Linked DNA regions of Homo sapiens. The protein of the gene in region 1 interacts with the protein of each later gene in a pairwise test. Each region holds a gene or a part of one and is shown on either strand. Other genes may lie near its edges.

Region 1 (7,032 bases):
TTTTTTAAGAAGGCATGGAAAAGCAATTTCCTGAAAACTATTGTAACTACAAAAAAAGTGAATACCCTTTCCCTGCGTCTGCCTGGTATCCTGTGCATATCTCTATCATAATGTTTATTACATAACATATTTATCAGTTTGACTCATCTGTCCCCTCCCCTCCCATAATTAAACTACACTTTTTCTTTTTGAGACCGGGTCTTGCTCTGTTGCCCAGGCTGGAGTGCAATGGTGCAGTCATAGCTCACTGTAGCCTCAAGTGATCCTCCCACCTCAGCCCCTCGAGTAGCTGGGACTACAGGTATGCACCACCACACCCAGCTAATTTTTTTTTTTTTTTTAACTCAGGGTCTCACTATGTTGCCCAGGCTGGTCTCGAACTCCTGGACTCAAGCGATCCCACTTTACCCTCCCAGAGTGCTGGGACAACAGGCATGAGCTACCAAGCCTGGCCTTTAGACCACACTTTTGAAAATAGAGATTGTGTCCTTCTTCACTGTAGTAGCCCAGTATCAAGTACATAGTAGGTATACAAAAACATTTGTTCAAAGAAAAAGGAAGCAGGCAGGGAGATAAAAATCCCCCTGGAGTAAATAACATTGTTAAGTGTTTGCCTTAGCCTTATGTTGGTGGAGCAGTTTTTCTGTTTACCATTTATTTTATTAAGTTTGTTATAACTTAAGCTGTTGATTTTAGGGCATGGCCATTATGTTTATTATATATTATTACAGATAGACTATTTGTCTGGGTTTATATTATCAATAAAAGGATTATAATTGCCAAGATAATATATTGTCCTTAATAAGAAATCTCCTTTTATTTATTAAAGCATGGAAAGAGAAGTTTAGAGGTCATGGTTAGTAGAAAGAAGGAAGTGTGTGTCAATAGATAATTTTCTATTGACACACACTTGTTGATAATTAAAATAGATCATTTCAATTAAAATAATTTTCTATTGACACACACTTGTTGCTACATTCTTTTTTAATCTTTCTCTGTCTGCTGGGACTACTAAAGAAACTTGAACTCCAAGCATTTGGCCTCACATTTCAGAAGATTATCCTTGAAGATACAACCAATAAAGTCCTAAAGTCTCAGACAATGAAAACTATACTGAACTTGTGGTCCAGTTAAAGTGAGCACTATGGTAAGGTAGTAGAATATAGTGAAATGAGAGTGGAATTTATAATTAAAAGATTTAGGTTGAGATCACCCTACCATCACTTAAGAGATTTGTATGAAGGATGGTCCAAGAACATTTAGAACTCTGACTTACTGCCCCAAGTGTAGTCTGTTTCTCCTCCAGAGATAGAGTCCCCAAGCAGATTGTTAGTTGATATTTTCTCCATAGTGCCCAGATCCCAAAAGGTAATTCACTTCATAAAAAGTTTCTTCCTCTAAACTTATCAATAGTGATCTTAAAGTTGTGGTAATAATAATGGCTACTGCTTGTTGAATACTTCCTAAGTGTCAAGCCCTTTACATATTTTCTCGTTTTATCTCCACAACAACTGAGTGAAATAAATACTGTTCTTTTCCCCATTTTACTGATAAGAAAATTTAGTGGTAGATTTGGAATCTAACACCAAAAATGCAAGCTTTTAGCCACTGCTTAGCTGTTAATCACAGTGAAGAACTGAGAACTTTATCATCTAGTTTTCTTCTGCTTCCATTTCCCATTTTTAAATGAAAACGATGTTACCCTCCAAAGACTTATATGAGAAAAACTTAATTGTGAATAATTTTAAGATGTCCAAGTAAAAGAGCTGGGAAAAAAAAAAAAAACCTAAAAAGTGGGAGGGTTTTTGTTCTGTTTTCATGTATTTCAGGCCTAGATGAAATTTAATTAACTTAATACCCATTATGAAATTGTTTTTCTCTCCAATTTTCCTGAACATAAATGTTTTGGTGCTTCCAGACATGGGCCATGTTCAGCCCATTCTTCTGCTTTCCTGAATTCTCTAACGTCATGGTTGGAAAAGGTCTGATTTTTTTTTTAAAAAGAAAATACTTGAGGAAAGCAGTTGACAACTGCTTGGGCAGGAGATGGTTCTGTACTGTATCCCAGGATCCTGTCTGCTGTTTCAGTTTGTCTTATGTGAGAGGCAGTCTTTTTTTTTTCTTTTCCCCAAAAAAACAACACACTCAACTCATCCAGCAACTATTTAACAAATGTTTTTTGAGTACCTGTTATATACACTAAGTGTCTTCCATATTAGCTTATTTACTCATCACACTAACCTGAGGAGGTACTCTTATTAGCCCTATGTTTCAATGGGTAGACTGAGGCACAGTTGAATAATAAGGTACTTTCTCAAGATCACACAGCTAGTAAGTGGCAGAGCCATCTGTGAACCTATTATGCTATACTGTTTTCATAAAACCAAAATCTCATGAAGACACACAACTGAATAGAATAATTACAAGTGTGATAAATGTTGTTTTAAAAGGGTAAAGGGCTATTGCAGCATTATTTTAGACTGAGAGGTCCAAATTTAAAATTATTGCTGTTGCTCTCACCTATTTTTTTCCTCTTGTATGGCCTGAAACATTTGAATGCAGGAAAACTACAGAAAATCCTTAAAATATTTAGGAAATAAGACATTTATGCTTATTTACTTTCCTTATTCTTTTTGAGCTAAGCAAAGAATAACTGTTATTGCAAATCTTTCTTAGAAGTATTAGTCCATTTGTTTTCCTTAGTATTTCACAGTAAACACATTTTAAGCTTTGTAATTCAAACCACATAGTGCTTCATCAGTATCAGTTCTTTTGGTCTAGCATTTATAACTATAGATGGATTTTAATAGGGAGGAAAAGTTACAGTCTTCACTCATGGTTTTTAACTTGATACCATCTGGCCTGTAGCTACTCTAGCCCCAAGAATAATTTCTTCTCTAGAGATTTAAGGATAAGGGCATTCGAACAACTAAGCCGTGCCTAATTAAAATACTAATTTGAAAGGCAGGCTATAATGTGTGTGTGCTTGTTTGCTTTGAAATCTTCTGCCTTAAATGAATTGCAAGTTTTGATCTCTAATGAAACACTATCATTTTTTAACATACGTTTATCGAGACGCTACCATGTGGTAAACTCTGCCTCTTTCTCACTTCTAGCTTTTTTAATCTATCTCTCTTTGTAGGATTCTGTCTTCATTTTTGTTTCTCCCATTTTTACTCCTTCTATTTCTCTTATTTTCCTTCGCTTCTGCTATGTCCTTCCCTTCTTTGTCTTTTTCTCCTAAAATTCCAGTCATTTGAAAAACTTAGTTATAGTAAAAATTTGATTAATTGAAGAGGAATTTATATTCACTTACTCTACCTGCCCTTTTGCTTATTTTCACCAGGAGTTTTTGTTTATCAGGCCTTATAAAGGCCTTGCTTCAAAATAAGCAAAAGGGAGAAACTGAGAAGCTGGGAAATGTACCCTTATTTGAATAGCTGGAAGAAAGATCAAATGCATTATTTAATTTATGCAAGTCTTCCTCCTCAAATAAATAGTTGGCTGACATAAAACAGGAACAGCGTGTAACAGCCCATTGTCCAAATCTAGCTGACTCTGTTTCTGTATGTCCCACAAGTTATGAAATAGCTCTTATATTTTTAAATGATTTTAAAAAGGCAAAAGAATACTTTTTCATTACACATGAAAATTATGTGAAATTCAGATTTATGTCCATAAGTTTTATTGGAACAGCTGTGCTGTTTATGTAGGTACTATCTATGGCTTCTTTTGCACTGCAAAAGTAGAGTTGAGTAGTTGCAACAGACTGCAAAGCCCAAAATATTTAGTTCCTGGTTCTTTACAGGAAAAGTTTGCCAATCCTGACAAAGAATCACTGATGAAGAATCATAGTGGCCAAAAGTAACACTTAATCCTGAATACATATGTTTTTAAGAAGAAAGTTCAAAAATTGCCAAGACTTTTCAATTTGGCCTACTGTTACCCCTAAAAAGTGCTGCTGCAACTGAATAGCATGTGTTTTTGAGACTAAACTTCCAGCCTTTCTGTCTTGCCCCATCCAGGCAGGACTGCTCTCATCAATTTACAACATGAAGTGTTTTATTTGCACTCTGTGAAGGCAGAAGGAAAAAAGTGTCCGTTAAAAAGTGGCAGTTTAGGTATTTCAGTAATTCCTTAGCCCATCCTTTCTTATTGTGTAGGATAATGCTTATGACTCACAGTCAGATTCTCAGCAGAGGAAATCCAGTTATCTGTTGAACTTTACAATAATAAAATCTCAGTGATGAGTGGATTTATTACTCCACATGATTTCCAGTAGTGCTAAGGTTAATAGATCTGAAAGTAAATCAGCTGATGGGGAACGGGGACAACTACAGCCCTCTGGACTAATCAGCCTGTGTTGTCATCTTGGAAAGAATGTTTAACTGCCTTTCCAGAAACTTACCCAACAAAAATTACTACACAACAAATTTCATTTGTTTCATGGTTTGCTTGGTTTTCTTTTGTTTCTTCCTACAAGGTCTTTAGCCTTATTACTTTAGAACTTCAGGAGGCATATTTTAACACCTACTTCACAGATTTTTGTAAACATTATAAATACTCATGTATGTAAGGAGGAGCTACATGTGGCTAACATGTCATAGGAATTCATAAATGGTAGTTATTAGGAGTAGTAACAAAAGATACCTTCAGAATGAGAGAATTTTAAGAGTTGTATAATTTCATCTTTTCAGAAAAATTAACTTACACAGGAAATAAGCAGGTACAGAAACACTGCTAAATATATATTCAATGCAGCAGTTTCTAAGTGAGAAATTTGGACACAACAGATTTCATCATATAAAATGGAATTAATTAATTAATCTTTAATAATGATAAAGAATATGTGCTGATATGAAAAAATGTTCATAACATGGATGGGAGGGAGAAGATTTTAAATCACTGTGTATACCATTCTTTCATTATTGAAAAAATACAGGCTAGAAAAGGTTTAAAAGACGTATATCAAGGCAAAAAACATCCAGAGATAAAGTATAGATAATGTTTCTGTTTGTTGAGCTATCATTTCTAATTTTTATAGTAACTTTTGCTTTTAAAGTAAAAAAGCAATTTTAGAAAATGTATGTGAGTTTCCTGGAGGTAAGCCCAACTTGAATGTTCAATACAAAAATTCAAATGTACAGGCTTATGTCCATATTCAGACCCTTCTTTGATTAGTTAAAAGTTTATTCTACTGCCATTTTGGTAATAAAAGAAAAAAAAATACTCTAAACCAGGAGTCCCCAACTCCCAGGCCACAGACGGATCAGATCAGCAACATTAGATTCTCATAAGAGCACAAACCCTATTGTGAACTGCACATATGAGGGATCTAGGTTGTGTATTCCTTATGAGAACCTAATGTCTGATGATCTGTGGTGGAACAGTTTCATCCCAAAACCATGTTCCCCAACCCTTTCCTGTGGAAAAATTGTCTTCCACGAAACTGGTCCCTGGTGCCAAAAAGGTTGGGGACCATTGCTCTAAACTATGGCAAAGTAGTATTTACAACCAAGTATCATAGGATCCCTAATTTTTAGGAACATTCTCAACCAGCAAAATACCCACAAGTGGCCGGGTGCATTGGCTCACGCCTGTAATCCCAGCACTTTGGGAGGCCGAGGCCGGAGGATCACGAGGTCAGGAGATCAAGACCATCCTGGCTAACACGGTGAAACTCCGTCTCTACTAAAAATACAAAAAATTAGCCAGGCATGGTGGTGGGCACCTGTAGTCCCAGCTACTGGGGAGGCTGAGGCAAGAGAATGGCGTGAACCCAGGGGGCAGAGCTTGCAGTGAGCCGAGATCTCGCCACTGCACTCCAGCCTGGGCGACAGAGTGAGATTACATCTAAAAAAAAAAAAAAAAAAAAAAAAAAAGTCCACAAGTGTATTAACCAAAATATCACTATTTGTCCCTTTCCCCATAAAACTGGTAGGAAGGATTCAGTCCTAAAGTAATACATGGGAAACTTGAAGGAAATGAATTTCCTGAGATTTTAGTGAGTGAGAATTTCTTTTCTCTTATTCCCAGAAGTGGTAGATGACTAAGGGTTCATTTATAAGCCTGCTAGAGTTTAAGCCTCACCTCTGAGCTATGCATTTATAGCACAACATGCTATAAATAGACACAGCTGGAATTAAGAGGGCTTCCTCTGTAAAAACATCAGATTTCAGTCTCAGAACTCTAGTGATGCATTCCCAACTTAGATACTGTGTACCTTTTTGAGGGGTAACCAGGTGGGGAAGAATTTTGAGAGGTGAAGGTAGGATACTTTCATTTTAAAGTCATTAGAAAAATATGAAAGTGCCATTTTCCCAGTGTATACACTGATTATTTCTAGCCAAGCATTTGATATGTGAAAGACCAAATCCAGTTTTCAAAATGTGTACTTAATTCCTTGTTCCTGGTGATTTGCAATCCCATATACACATCTGGGGTTCTCAAAAACACAATGTGACATGGGAACTGACACAAAAAAAACTGGGCTGAACTTTTTGGCTTGTCCTCATGTAGATCATAAATGAACTTTTTGAGAGTCTTTGAATGTCCCAGCCTAGCCAGACTGGGGGCAGGTATGAAGCAAATGGCAAATTAAATTGTTTAAGAGGCTTTTGATCAAAAAGGGTAAATGCTATTTTCCCATTTTTCTTCATGAAGATACAAACACTTAAGTAAAATAGAAGGATTACAGAAAACTATCATCTACATTTACTGATCATTTTATCTGTATTCTACAAGGCCAGCCTAATAATCTTTACTTTCCACCGGTAAGGAAACTAAGGTTCAAAGAGGTAAAGATCATGCAACTAAGAAGTATCAGAAGTGAAATTCAAACATAGTTACTCCTCGTTCTCAGGGAATCTCAGTGTAATAAGGGATATAAATGCACAAGAAATTAAAATATTAGATTAAAAAATAATAAAAGATTAAAATCCTACATTGGAAGGTCAATTAAAAATAAATAAAAAATAAAAGATTAGACAAGATATAAGTGCCATAAGATAATTTTCAAAAAATGCTATCGAG
Region 2 (7,032 bases), on another chromosome or scaffold:
TCGTTCACAAACAGCCACTTTTCTCATCACAGAGGCCTCCCCAAAAAATCACCCAGGGGAATAAATTCCCACGCCAATCATGGAGAAAACCAAAGAACTATCCATCGCAAAGATTAAGGTCCTTTTTTTATACCCAGGCCCTATGAAATAAAAACAAGTCAACATGGCTGTTTGGGTGGCTAGAGAAAGAAAAAGACAAACATTACTTTAGCATTGTCCACACATTCAATTGTACTATGGAGTATTTACAGACCAGGCTCTTAAGAAAACAGGGATGAACAAACCAGACAAGTACTTGCCCTAGAAAAGCTTAACATCTGGCCGGGTACAGTGGCTCACGCCTGTAATCCCAGCACTTTGGGAGGCCAAGGCAGGTGGATCACCTGAGATCAGGAGTTTGAGACCAGCCTGGCCAACATGGTGAAACCACGTCTCTACTAAAAATACAAAAATTAGCCGGGCGTGGTGGCAGGTGCCTGTAATCCCAGCTACTCAGGAGGCTGAGGCAGGAGAATCACTTGAACTTGGGAGGTGGAGGTTGCAGTGAGCCAAGATTGTGCCATTGCACTCCAGCCTGGGTGAAAAGAGTGAAAATCCATCTAAAAAAAAAAAAGAGAAAGGAAAAAGAAAGAAAAATTTACCATCTGATAAAGGAGAGGCAGATAAATATATACTAGGCACAGAACACAGTATCTGAAGCCATTGCCTTGTAGTTCATTTCCTTCCATTTTTACTATGCTAGAGAAGAGATTTTATTACGCCCATTTTACTGATGAGGAAATTAGAGACCAGAGAAATCGATACATAAAATAATTTCTTTAAAAGCACCTAATGTAATAGATTGCTTTGCAGCTTTTAGTTCTCTGGTTCCTCTCTACTTCCTGCCTCACAGGTATTCCACTAGTGGCCAGGACCTGGGTTTGACTTCAGATGTCCTGCTTTTCTTATTTGCCCTGCTGGGGCGAAAAGGACTGCCAGACCTCTCTGGGATTCGGAGCAAACAAATTATCTTAGATGCTGATAGATGCTGATAGATGCATCATATGCTGATAGATGCTGATAGATGCATCATATGCTGATAGAATGATGCTGATAGAATGATTAATCAATTCTGCTTTCAAGTGAGTTGCCTCTAATGTGTAGGAAACAACTATATCTATTCAAATTCAAAATGAGACCTCCAGGATTCAAAAGACTCTATGTTTAGAATTTTAAACCTCTACTTATCTGTGCTTTCTGATTTTTCTGCTCTAGCCCTGTAATAGAGTAGTTAAGCTGACACTTTTCTTGCTGTGGGAGCGTAGCTAAGCTATTTCACTTCTCCGAGCCTCAGTTTCCTCATTTGTAAGCATGAGAGAGGGTGTCCATGAGCAACAGAACAAAGAATATGTATAAAGCCACCGGCACATAGTCTGCACCCCATATAGGTGGCTGTTGTCATTTATCACCATGAATCGTGTTGTCATTTATCACCATGAGTCGTGTGTAGGGTCATGGATTTCAAGCTAGAAACTTAAATTTAATTCCTAGTGGGAGACATCTAAAACTCTTGGAACCTGGATTTCAAATGTGAAAGGCAAGTGAGCAACAGCTTTCCTAGGGCAGCACTGGGTGTCAGGCTAAGGCAGAGTCACCTCTCAGTGAGAAAGTAGAAAGAACTGGTGCATTAACACTCCTGAGAAATGATTTGAATTTCTACTTTTTTCTTCTTTTTTAAAAAATAATTTAATTTAGAGACAGAGCCTTGCTATGTTGCCCAGACTTATCTCCAACTCCTAGCCTCAAGCAATCCCCCCATAATGGCTCCCAGAAGTGCTGGGATTACAGGCATGAGCCACTGCCCCAGCCTCGAATTTCTAAATAATGACATATATTAAAAAATAATAAAATCTCTATTAAACATGAGGTCCTGAGCCCTGTGTTATGGCCCAAGAATGTGGGGGTTGAGTGAGATTTGCCCTTTGCCAATAAGTATTTTTTAATTATAGTTAATGCACTTCCTACTATGAAGGCCGAGGACTGGGCACTCTTTACCACCCTCTCCACATCACTCCACATTCCCCAAATTCCCTCTCCCCCGTCATCCTAATATGATTATTTCTCAATTTTTAAAAATCAAATCTGGATATGGTTTCAATCATTATGTGGATATAATTCTTTCTTTTTAAAAGATGAATTATATACATTATGGACATTATGGATACTTTATTAAATCAGTCTATTCACATACTGTTTTTTCTCCAATCTTTTGCTATTGTAATGAATATCCAATATTTGATCCACGCTTTGAGCACATGTGGGAGTGCTTCTGGAAAATAAATTCCTAGAAGTGAATTTGCTTTAGTAGATGTTGCCAAATTGCCCTCTAACAAGGTTACATGAATTAATATTTCTATGAGACTTGAGAGTGCCTCTTCCTTACACCATTGTCAACACGGTGTTTTAGCAAACATTTTGATCTTTACCATTCACATAGGTGACTGTTTTCTATTGTAAGAGTTTTGGTAAGCATTACTATGTTAGTCGTGTGTCCTAAGGATTGCCTGGTTAAGAAAGGGGATAATGAAACAATTTAAAAATCAGGCACAAGCGGCAGGGTCTGGTGGCTCATGCCTGTAATCCCAGCACGGGCAGATCACTTGAGGCCAGGAGTTTGAGACCAGCCTGGTCAACATGGTGAAACCCCCGTCCCTGCTAAAAATGCAAAAATTAGCCAGGCATGGAGGCGGGTGCCTGTAATCCCAGCTATTGGAAAGGCTGAGGCATGAGAATTGCTTGAATCAGAGAGAAGGAGGTTGCACCAAGCCGAGATGGTGCCACTGCACTCCAGCCTGGGTGACAGAACAAGATTCTGTCTTTAAAAATAAAAATAAATAAATATCAGCACAAGCTACTGTGTCTGAAACAAAAAGGGGCTGAGAGTTTGAAAAGAGAAAAAAAAAATCTAAGGGACATTAAGATGGGATAGAAGCACAGGGAAGAAAGACGCTTTACAAAGACAAACTCACTGGAAAGGAGCTCATCTTCCAGGGTAAAGTTTCCAATGCTGATTAGATAACCATAGGGAGATAAAAATAAATGGAAATTCAGAACTGGAAAGAAACATCAGAACGCACAATGTAAACGTGGAGTGCCTGAAAATGTGTCACCTAACGGGACACCTAACGGGAAAAACAAAAACTCTAGTTCTCAGGACTGGGAGACGCCAACCTTCAGTGACTAAGAGAGGCAGGTGAACCAGCAAAGGAACTAGTTCCATCAGGGTGGGTATTCAGCAGGAACCTTGGAGCAATTGCAGAGGAATGAGTATGCTCAGAAGTTCTGTAGCTTTCATAATGTTCAATTCTTCATGTAAAACTACTAAAGATCATGACTTGACACTGTTGATACCATACAGTTGTGAACAACAGTTCTCAGAAAAGGAATTTGGAGTAAAGAATTTATTCCAGTTAACGGTTTGCAAACCAGGGAAACACAGCCTCCGGTGTAAAAGGAAGGTGTATTCCAGAGAAGAAAGGGAAGGCTCAGATTTTATAGCAAAAGTTCCCACCCAGGTTTCCAGTCAGGTCTGTTTGGGTAAATAAAGGATTCAAATTCACTTAGTTCTGATTGGTGGATACAGCTGAACCCTGATTAGCTGGTACAGCTGAGCCCCGATTGGTCATTACAGCTGAGCCCTGATTGGCTGAGGCAGATCTCAAAGATAAAAAGGTGTGGGTTTTCAAGGAACTCAGAAGATGCGTGTGACCCCCTAGTCAGTAAATGGCCACTTGGCCCTACTTTAAATTTAGAGCCAGTTAACCACTCAGGACCCATCTTGAAGGACGGGCTCTTTCAGGGTCACATTTGTTCTCATAGTATATTGAACTATAATCTTATATAGAATTAAGAGTTGCCTTCCCCAAACACAAGCAATTAATGTCTCCAAGCCTGTGGGTATAAGGAGTTTATAAAATCTACCTCATGTCTTTGTCATGCACATTGAACAAGATGACGATGTAAAATGTTTGGCCCATGACTGCACTTAGTAAATGTTGATTATCCTCAATTCATATGCAGGGATTACTATCCCCATTGTACTGATGAAGAAATTGAGGCTTGAGAAGTCACATGACTTTCCCAAGACTGTCAAAATATAACAGCAATAACCACAGCTGCCATTTTTGAGAACTGACTTTCCCAGGCACTATTTGAGCTACTCTATTATGTTATGTCATTTCATCTTCACAGCTGGTACTGCTGGCAAACATAGAGAAAACAAATATGAATTAAGATTTCACTAACTTATTTTGCCATACTCATAAGGCAAATTAATATTTTAATAAAACGTTGTGCAACGTGAGAATTATGTGTCCTTCATACATGGGGATAAGCCAGGGTCTACCTTGCTAAGTCACTGGGGCCTGTGTGCATCAGTTCACATCAGATCCCAGAGCTTCAAGCTCAATGCAACTTAAATTGACAGCCAGGGCATATTTTGATTTTGTGTCCACTCTAAGGAACAGAGGCTTGTTGGTCAACTGACAAGCATGAATCTGGGGGCCATGAGTTCATCTCAGAAAGTCTCCCGCTGTTTGAAATCCCCACGCTTGCTGTCTTGCCCTCACCCCTGTCTGTCGAAGCCTTCGTGGTAAGCAAGCTTGGACTTCATGAAAGTGAGTCTAACTCTGACATTGAAATAGTGGCTGTGTCTTGTCTCCCCAGTCTTCCCACACCTGGTGAAGGAGCTCAACGCAGGCCTTCATGTGATGATTCTGCTGCTCCTCTTCCTGGCCTTGGCCCTGGCTCTGGTCAGCATGGGCTTTGCCATTCTTAACATGATCCAGGTCCCGTACCGGGCAGTCAGCGGTCCTGGGGGCATCTGCCTATGGAATGTCCTGGCAGGTAAGAAGTCCCTTAGGGAGAGAAAATTATGTCCACACCATCATAGGGCTGGGCTCCAAGTAGTTGGGCAGAAGGTGTGAAGGAACTAAAATGCCCCACTGGAGCCTTGACCTTCCTGGGTCTAAGACCTTCTTGATGGGCATGGAATGAATGTCCTCTTTTTCTTTTTCTTTTTTTTTTTTTTTCTTTGAGACAGGGTCTCACTTTGTCACCCAGACTGAAGTGCAGTGGTGCGATCTCAGTTCACTGCAGCCTTGACCTCCTGGGCTCAAGTGATCTTCCCACCTCAGGCCCCCAAGTAGCTGGGAGTACAGGCGTGCACCACCATGCCCAGCTAATTTTTTGTATTTTTTATAGAGACAGGTTTCACCATGTTGCCCAGGCTAGTCTCAAACTCCTAAGCTCAAGGGATCCACCTGTCTTAGCCTCCCAAAGTGCTCAAGAATTTCCTCTTTAAGTTGCAGAGTCTGTCACAACAAAGAAGCATCTTATTAGAGTACGTGAATGGCTGAGGGCTTAGAGCAGTGAAGAGAGATCGAGGTGAAAGAAGAAGCCAGAAGACAGAGAGCTGGAAGTAGGGAGAGGTGGGGGCCCTGAGATGGGAAAGAGATGGAGCTGGTGCTGCAGCTAAGGCTGGGAGGAACTCCACAAATGACAGAAGAGAAGGGTAGTGTGAGCAAGAGGCCATTCGTGAAAGGCTCCTCCATTCAGGCTCTGGGTTGAGAAGGGGAAGTGAGTGCCATCTAGTTGCCAAGGTCTTTGGTGTTCCCCCCACACACACACTTGGGCATATTAATGCAGACGTGGCTCACTGGCTGTCTCAACTCTCCCTCCTCTCACCTCCCCAACACCTTCACTGCACCATGCCCTTAAACTAGATGCAACTTACTGAGCAACCACTAAGGGCTGGGCAGGGACCTGGAGATTTTGCATGCATTGCTTCATTTAAATCTCACCACATCCCTATGGGAGGTATTATTAGACCCACAATTACAGATGAAGAGCCTGAGGCTCAGAGAAGTTAAACAGTCGCACCACAATGAGTGGCAGAGGTGGTATTCCAACCTAGGTGTAACTGATTCTAAGCTCTTTATTTTTCCACAGATCCATGCTCTCATTTATGACCATCATGACCTGTTTTCCAAGCCAAAAACTACAAGATGTGTGTGTGTGTGTGTGTGTGTGTGTGTGTGCGCGCGCATGTTGATTTGGGAGTATATTGATGCACAGAAATTAATTCACATTTAATTATGCACTTAACAAATCATCTGTAATGAAAATAACAGAATCTTGTGAAATGAGGGCTGTCACAGAAAACTCAGGTCAAATATTCAAGGTACCATTAGAACAATAATCCCTCGCTATGATTACCTTATACAAGAATAATATAAAAACAGGTAATGTTATTTTATTATGTATTATAATGTATATCAATCAATCAATTATTATGTATTTGCCTTTGTTTGCAGATGGTAGCCACCCTGTAGAATTGTTTACATACATGGCTTACCCTCATCAAGACTACAGGTGTCTTCCTCATCTGCATGAATCCTCACAGAGGCTGTCATGTAAAAAGTGCTCAACGCTGCTTATTAAATAAATATTTATCTCTGTCCATTCCTTTCCTTAGAGAGATAGCACTCTCAGACTCTACTGATGAGAGTATTAGCAACAGGCAAAAAAGCCTGGGCAACACAGCAAGACCCCATTTCTAAAAAAAAAAAAAAATTAGCTGTCCATGGTGTCCGGTGCCTGTAGTCTCAGCTGCTTGAGAGCTATAATCCCAACACTTAGGGAGGCTGAGGTGGGAGGATTGCTTGAGCCTGGGAGGTCCAGGCTGCAGTGAACCGTGATCATGCCACTGCACTCCAGCCTCAGCCAACAGAGCGAAACCTTGTCTCAAAAAATAAAAAATAAAAACAGGCAAAGCTTTATGTCTTTTGACAAAACTTTATTTCTTGCCACTGAGCTTAAAAAAACAACAACACTGTAGTGTCAGAAGGCAGAAAAAGGTGAATAGCCTTTGAATATCTTTTGACTAAACAATTCCATGTTTGAATTTATGCTAAGGAAATACTGGACAAGAGAACAAGGATGTACATAAAATGGTATTTGCTGTAGCACTTTATAATATCAAAAAATTAGAAG
Region 3 (5,057 bases), on another chromosome or scaffold:
CTAATTTCCATTCCCACCAACAGTGTACCAGCATTCCTTTTTCTCCCCATCATCAACACTTGTTACCTTTTGTCTTTTTGGTAATAGCCATTCTTACAGGTGTGAAGTGATATTTGGCACTTGATGGTTAGTGATGCTGAGCATTTTTTTCATATACTTTTTGGCCACTTCTATGTCTCCTTTTGAGAAGTGTCTATTCAGGTCCCACGCCCATGTATCCATTTTACTTGGATTATTTGATTGTGTGCTATTGAGATGTTTGAGTTCCTGTGTATTTTGGATTTTAACCAAAATCTTGGATCTTTTGAATATTGACCCTCATTCTGTAGGTTGTCTCTTCACTCTGTTCATTGTTTCCTTTGTCATGCAGAACCTTTTTAGTGTAATGTAACCTCATTTGTCTGTTTTTCCTTTTGTTGCCTGTGCTTTTGGGGTCATAGTCAAGAAACCATTGCCCAGACCAACATCATGAAAATTTTCCCCTATGTATTCTTGTGGTAGTTTTACCATTTCAGATCTTATGTTTTAATCTTTAGTCCATTTTGAATTAATTTTTACATATGATGTGAGATAAAGGTCTTATTTCATTCTTCTGCATGTCAATACCTACTTTTCTCAACACCATTTATTGAAGAGCTGTCCTTTCCCCATTTTGTGTTCTTGGTATCTTTCTCACAATCAATCAACTGTAAATGCATTGATTTATACCTGGGTTCACTATTTTGTTCCATCAGTTTATTTACCATTGTTGTGCCATTACCATTCAGTTTTGATTACTATACTTTTGTAACACGTTTTAAAATCAGGTAGTACGATGCCTCCATCTTTGTTCTTTTGTTTGTTTTGCTTAAGATCACTTTGGCTATTTGAGGTCTTTTGTAGTTCCATACAAATCTGGGCGTGGTGGTGCGTCGCCTATAATCCCAGCTACTCGGGAGGCTGAGGCAGAAAAATCGCTTGAACCAGGGAGTTGGAGGTTGCAGTGAGCCGAGATTGTGCCACTGCACTCCAGCCAGGTGACAGAGCAAGACTCTGTCTCAAAAAAAAAAAAAAAGACACATGAATATACATAACAGTCAGGATGTCCTGATGGGAACCATGAAGAATAGTTAAGTGACAGGAGATAGACAAGGTTGGTGGGGCCTCTCGGGGATGGTGATTTGGGCTGATATTTAAAGTTGGACAGGGCCAGTCTTGCAGAGAGCCAGGAAGAGTGCTCTTGAGAAGGCCCTGAAGGAATGAGAACCCCAGGTTTCGGGGGCTTGGGGAGACTGAGCGAAGACAGGGGGCCACTGTGGTGAGTGGACAGCAAACAGGTCAGGTGGACCAGCATGGGCAGATCACATGTACAGTAGGTTGGATGTTATTTTGTGAGTGACGGCGTAAAAAAAGTAAAATATCTCAATGATGTGTATTGATTACATGTTGAAATGTAGTATTTCAGATATTTTAGGTTAAAACTATATTGTTAAAATTAATTTGGCCTCATTCTTTTTACTATTTTAATATGGCTCTCATAGAATTTGAATTTTGCATAGAATTTGAATTTTGTATTATATTTCTGTCAGCAGTGCCAGTCAAAGGTATGTAATAGATGCTGAATGGATGACAAGACCAAGCCTGGAAGAGTGGATTTCTCTGTCTCAATTCCAGTGAGGGCCAAAAAAGAAGTTTCCCCACCACTGTCAGCCTCTGGGAATTCTGTGGTGACTCATTCATTGGCTTTTCTCTTCCTTCCCAGGATCTCATAGATCAGAACATACTGGAGCCTGTAACCCGTGCACAGAGGGTGTGGATTACACCAACGCTTCCAACAATGAACCTTCTTGCTTCCCATGTACAGTTTGTAAATCAGGTACAGAATGTGTGGACCTCTTGTCCAGAGGTGGAGCGTGGGGCAATGAGGTGGGAGTTGTAGCCGATATGAGTCAGGGAACCAAGTTCCAGCCCAACCTGGTCTTCATCACCCTGTTCTATGATTATATATTTGACTGATTAAAAAAATAGAAAGAAATCTTTTCTATAATGCATGCCACCTGGCTGGGAAATCGTCTAAACTGTCAGCTGCAAGAGGGTGGGGGGATCATTAGAGCATAGAGAAGGCCTGGCCCAGTGGACAGGGCTAGGTTTCAGTAGTGGCACGGGTCTGCTCCAGGGCCAGGCTCTCTCCCCCAGGCTCTGTGCTCCTGGCAGGTGCTCGGCCTCACTCAGCCTTCAGGTTCTCAGGCCCCTTCCTCCTCCCCAGCAGGCCCAGGCTTTGGGGAAGTCCCCCAAGGCCTCCGTCTCCTTGCAGAGTCTCTCAGGTGATGCCCTTGCACCTCCCTTGCTACTGACCATGCCATCTAAACAATGCTTTTCCCCTAATCTGATGTAATAAATAATGAATTATGCTCCTTTTTATGACTCCTCTGAGTGCTGGTGACAGCTGAAGGGTGGGTGTCCTGTATGAGCCCTGAGTGTGCTGGTGCAGAAACTGGCCCTTAGAACTCCTTGGTGAACTTGGTTGAGCTGAGTGGGAGGGGGTGGGTGGTAAGGAAGATCGAGGGATACATCAGGGAAACACATTCCCAAAACCTTATGCTCTGTTGTCAGATCAAAAACATAAAAGTTCCTGCACCATGACCAGAGACACAGTGTGTCAGTGTAAAGAAGGCACCTTCCGGAATGAAAACTCCCCAGAGATGTGCCGGAAGTGTAGCAGGTGAGACAGCAGTCAGGGGCTCCTGACAGCTTTCAGGAACCCGAGAAGACCTGAGTCACCTGGTACCCCTATTTCTCCGCTGACCCTATGGAGCCTCCAGACCCATGGGGTGTCCCTGAGCCTGTGGGGTCTCTTGGGTCTGCAGTGGCCGCTCCTGGTCCATCTGCCTGTCCCCACCCCTACCCCCTGCAGCAGCCCCTTCCCAGACCCTCCCCAGCACGAGTCCCCTTGGCCAGACCAACTTGTTCACTGGGCACAAGAAGCAACTTTCTGGATCCCTTGATCCTTTTCAGCAAACCTAGGAAATGCGATTTCCTTTTGAAATGAGAAGAAAACACTTGAATCCAGTCTGGGTTGTATTTGTTGCTATACCAAGCTGTTTTAAAAAATGTTCTTTTTAATATTTTTTATGCAGGCAGGACCCATAAAGACAAAAGTGGTCACGGCCGACAAAAGTCATAAGAAGGCTGTGGGTGGAGCTCCTTCAAGTTCCCATGAAGGCCTGAGCCAATCCAGCCGGCCTCACCCCTGGCCCCAATCCCTCAATAAGTCCTGTCTTTTCCCTATTTGGGCTTTAAGGGCCAAGAGTAATTTGTTCTTCTCTGGCCCCCTAATGTTTGCCGTGATAGGGAGGAACCAGCAGACAGTTGGGGGTGAGAGATCACTTGTACTGTGGGTTGACTGGAGGAAGGGGCTCAGCTTGTGGCCACAAGGGCTCGTGACCTTCCCCTGGAGTGTGGCTCCTCCTAACGCAGGCCTCCTCTGCAGCCCAGGGAAGCTCAGTGTGTGCCCGGCACAGAAGGCTCCTGTGGCCCCAGAGCAGGGAGGCTGAGGGGCTGAAATGCGCATGCTCAGACCCTTCCCCAGCCTCAACGAGGGAACTTGGGGGACCCCCTCCAGACAGGAGCCTGTCCTTCCCCTGACACCTTCTCAGGGACATTGGAGAGGGAGGGTGGCTCCCCTTTTATCCCACCTGGCTAGCTTTCCCTCAGGAGTCCTCACCTCCCTCTCTGTGTGTACCCAGGTGCCCTAGTGGGGAAGTCCAAGTCAGTAATTGTACGTCCTGGGATGATATCCAGTGTGTTGAAGAATTTGGTGCCAATGCCACTGTGGAAACCCCAGCTGCTGAAGAGACAATGAACACCAGCCCGGGGACTCCTGCCCCAGCTGCTGAAGAGACAATGAACACCAGCCCGGGGACTCCTGCCCCAGCTGCTGAAGAGACAATGACCACCAGCCCGGGGACTCCTGCCCCAGCTGCTGAAGAGACAATGACCACCAGCCCGGGGACTCCTGCCCCAGCTGCTGAAGAGACAATGATCACCAGCCCGGGGACTCCTGCCTCTTCTCATTACCTCTCATGCACCATCGTAGGGATCATAGTTCTAATTGTGCTTCTGATTGTGTTTGTTTGAAAGACTTCACTGTGGAAGAAATTCCTTCCTTACCTGAAAGGTTCAGGTAGGCGCTGGCTGAGGGCGGGGGGCGCTGGACACTCTCTGCCCTGCCTCCCTCTGCTGTGTTCCCACAGACAGAAACGCCTGCCCCTGCCCCAAGTCCTGGTGTCTCCAGCCTGGCTCTATCTTCCTCCTTGTGATCGTCCCATCCCCACATCCCGTGCACCCCCCAGGACCCTGGTCTCATCAGTCCCTCTCCTGGAGCTGGGGGTCCACACATCTCCCAGCCAAGTCCAAGAGGGCAGGGCCAGTTCCTCCCATCTTCAGGCCCAGCCAGGCAGGGGGCAGTCGGCTCCTCAACTGGGTGACAAGGGTGAGGATGAGAAGTGGTCACGGGATTTATTCAGCCTTGGTCAGAGCAGAACACAGAGATTTTCCGTGTGTTGGTTTTTACTCTAGTTCCCCTTCTCATCCCCCTTCCTCAGGGTGTCCCCTAATTGCAAGGCCCCATTCCTGTCCCCAGCCCCAGGGCTCCTTGTCCAGTGTCCCAGCCCCCAGCCCAGCCCTGTGCCCCACTGTCCTCTGGGAGGGAGGTGCTGCATGGGCCCCTCCCCACCTGCTAAGGAGACTCGTTCTCTTCCAAGTGGTGAAAGGGCCCCTGAGCGTGTAGACAGAGTGACTTGGTTTCTCCAGAAACTGGAAGCCTCATGGGCTGAGGAACTGCCTCCCACCCACAGCAGAGCCCTGGCGGACACAATCCCTTTTCCTCATGGCTGCCCTGACTCTCTGAAGTGGCTTGGGGTTCTGGGCTGACTGTGGGGGACACATGGCCATCTTGAGCATCACACAGACCGGCGGGTCCTGCTGCAGTCCTGTCCTTCCTGTAGTCTTCACTCCACAGCCTCACTCCACAGTGAGTGACCCTCACTGGACACCCTCACTCCACAGCCTGCAACCTG

What was found. The genes of interacting proteins can lie anywhere in the genome.
Region 2: the proteins of STOM (region 1) and CLRN2 interact in binary tests that used the Homo sapiens proteins (3 or more experiments, as listed by UniProt).
Region 3: the proteins of STOM (region 1) and TNFRSF10C interact in binary tests that used the Homo sapiens proteins (3 or more experiments, as listed by UniProt).

Annotation. Positions count from the first base shown.
Region 1 is NC_000009.12:121,360,231-121,367,262, reverse strand, and holds part of STOM (stomatin), read left to right. Parts: intron 1-1,017; exon of another isoform or gene 1,018-1,147; intron 1,148-7,032. UniProt on the Homo sapiens protein: Regulates ion channel activity and transmembrane ion transport. Regulates ASIC2 and ASIC3 channel activity.
Region 2 is NC_000004.12:17,518,160-17,525,191, forward strand, and holds part of CLRN2 (clarin-2), read left to right. Parts: intron 1-4,704; coding exon 4,705-4,884; intron 4,885-7,032. UniProt on the Homo sapiens protein: Plays a key role to hearing function. Required for normal organization and maintenance of the stereocilia bundle and for mechano-electrical transduction.
Region 3 is NC_000008.11:23,112,916-23,117,972, forward strand, and holds the end of TNFRSF10C (tumor necrosis factor receptor superfamily member 10C precursor), read left to right. Parts: intron 1-1,741; coding exon 1,742-1,855; intron 1,856-2,592; coding exon 2,593-2,701; intron 2,702-3,725; coding exon 3,726-4,116; 3' UTR 4,117-4,530; downstream 4,531-5,057. UniProt on the Homo sapiens protein: Receptor for the cytotoxic ligand TRAIL. Lacks a cytoplasmic death domain and hence is not capable of inducing apoptosis. May protect cells against TRAIL mediated apoptosis by competing with TRAIL-R1 and R2 for binding to the ligand.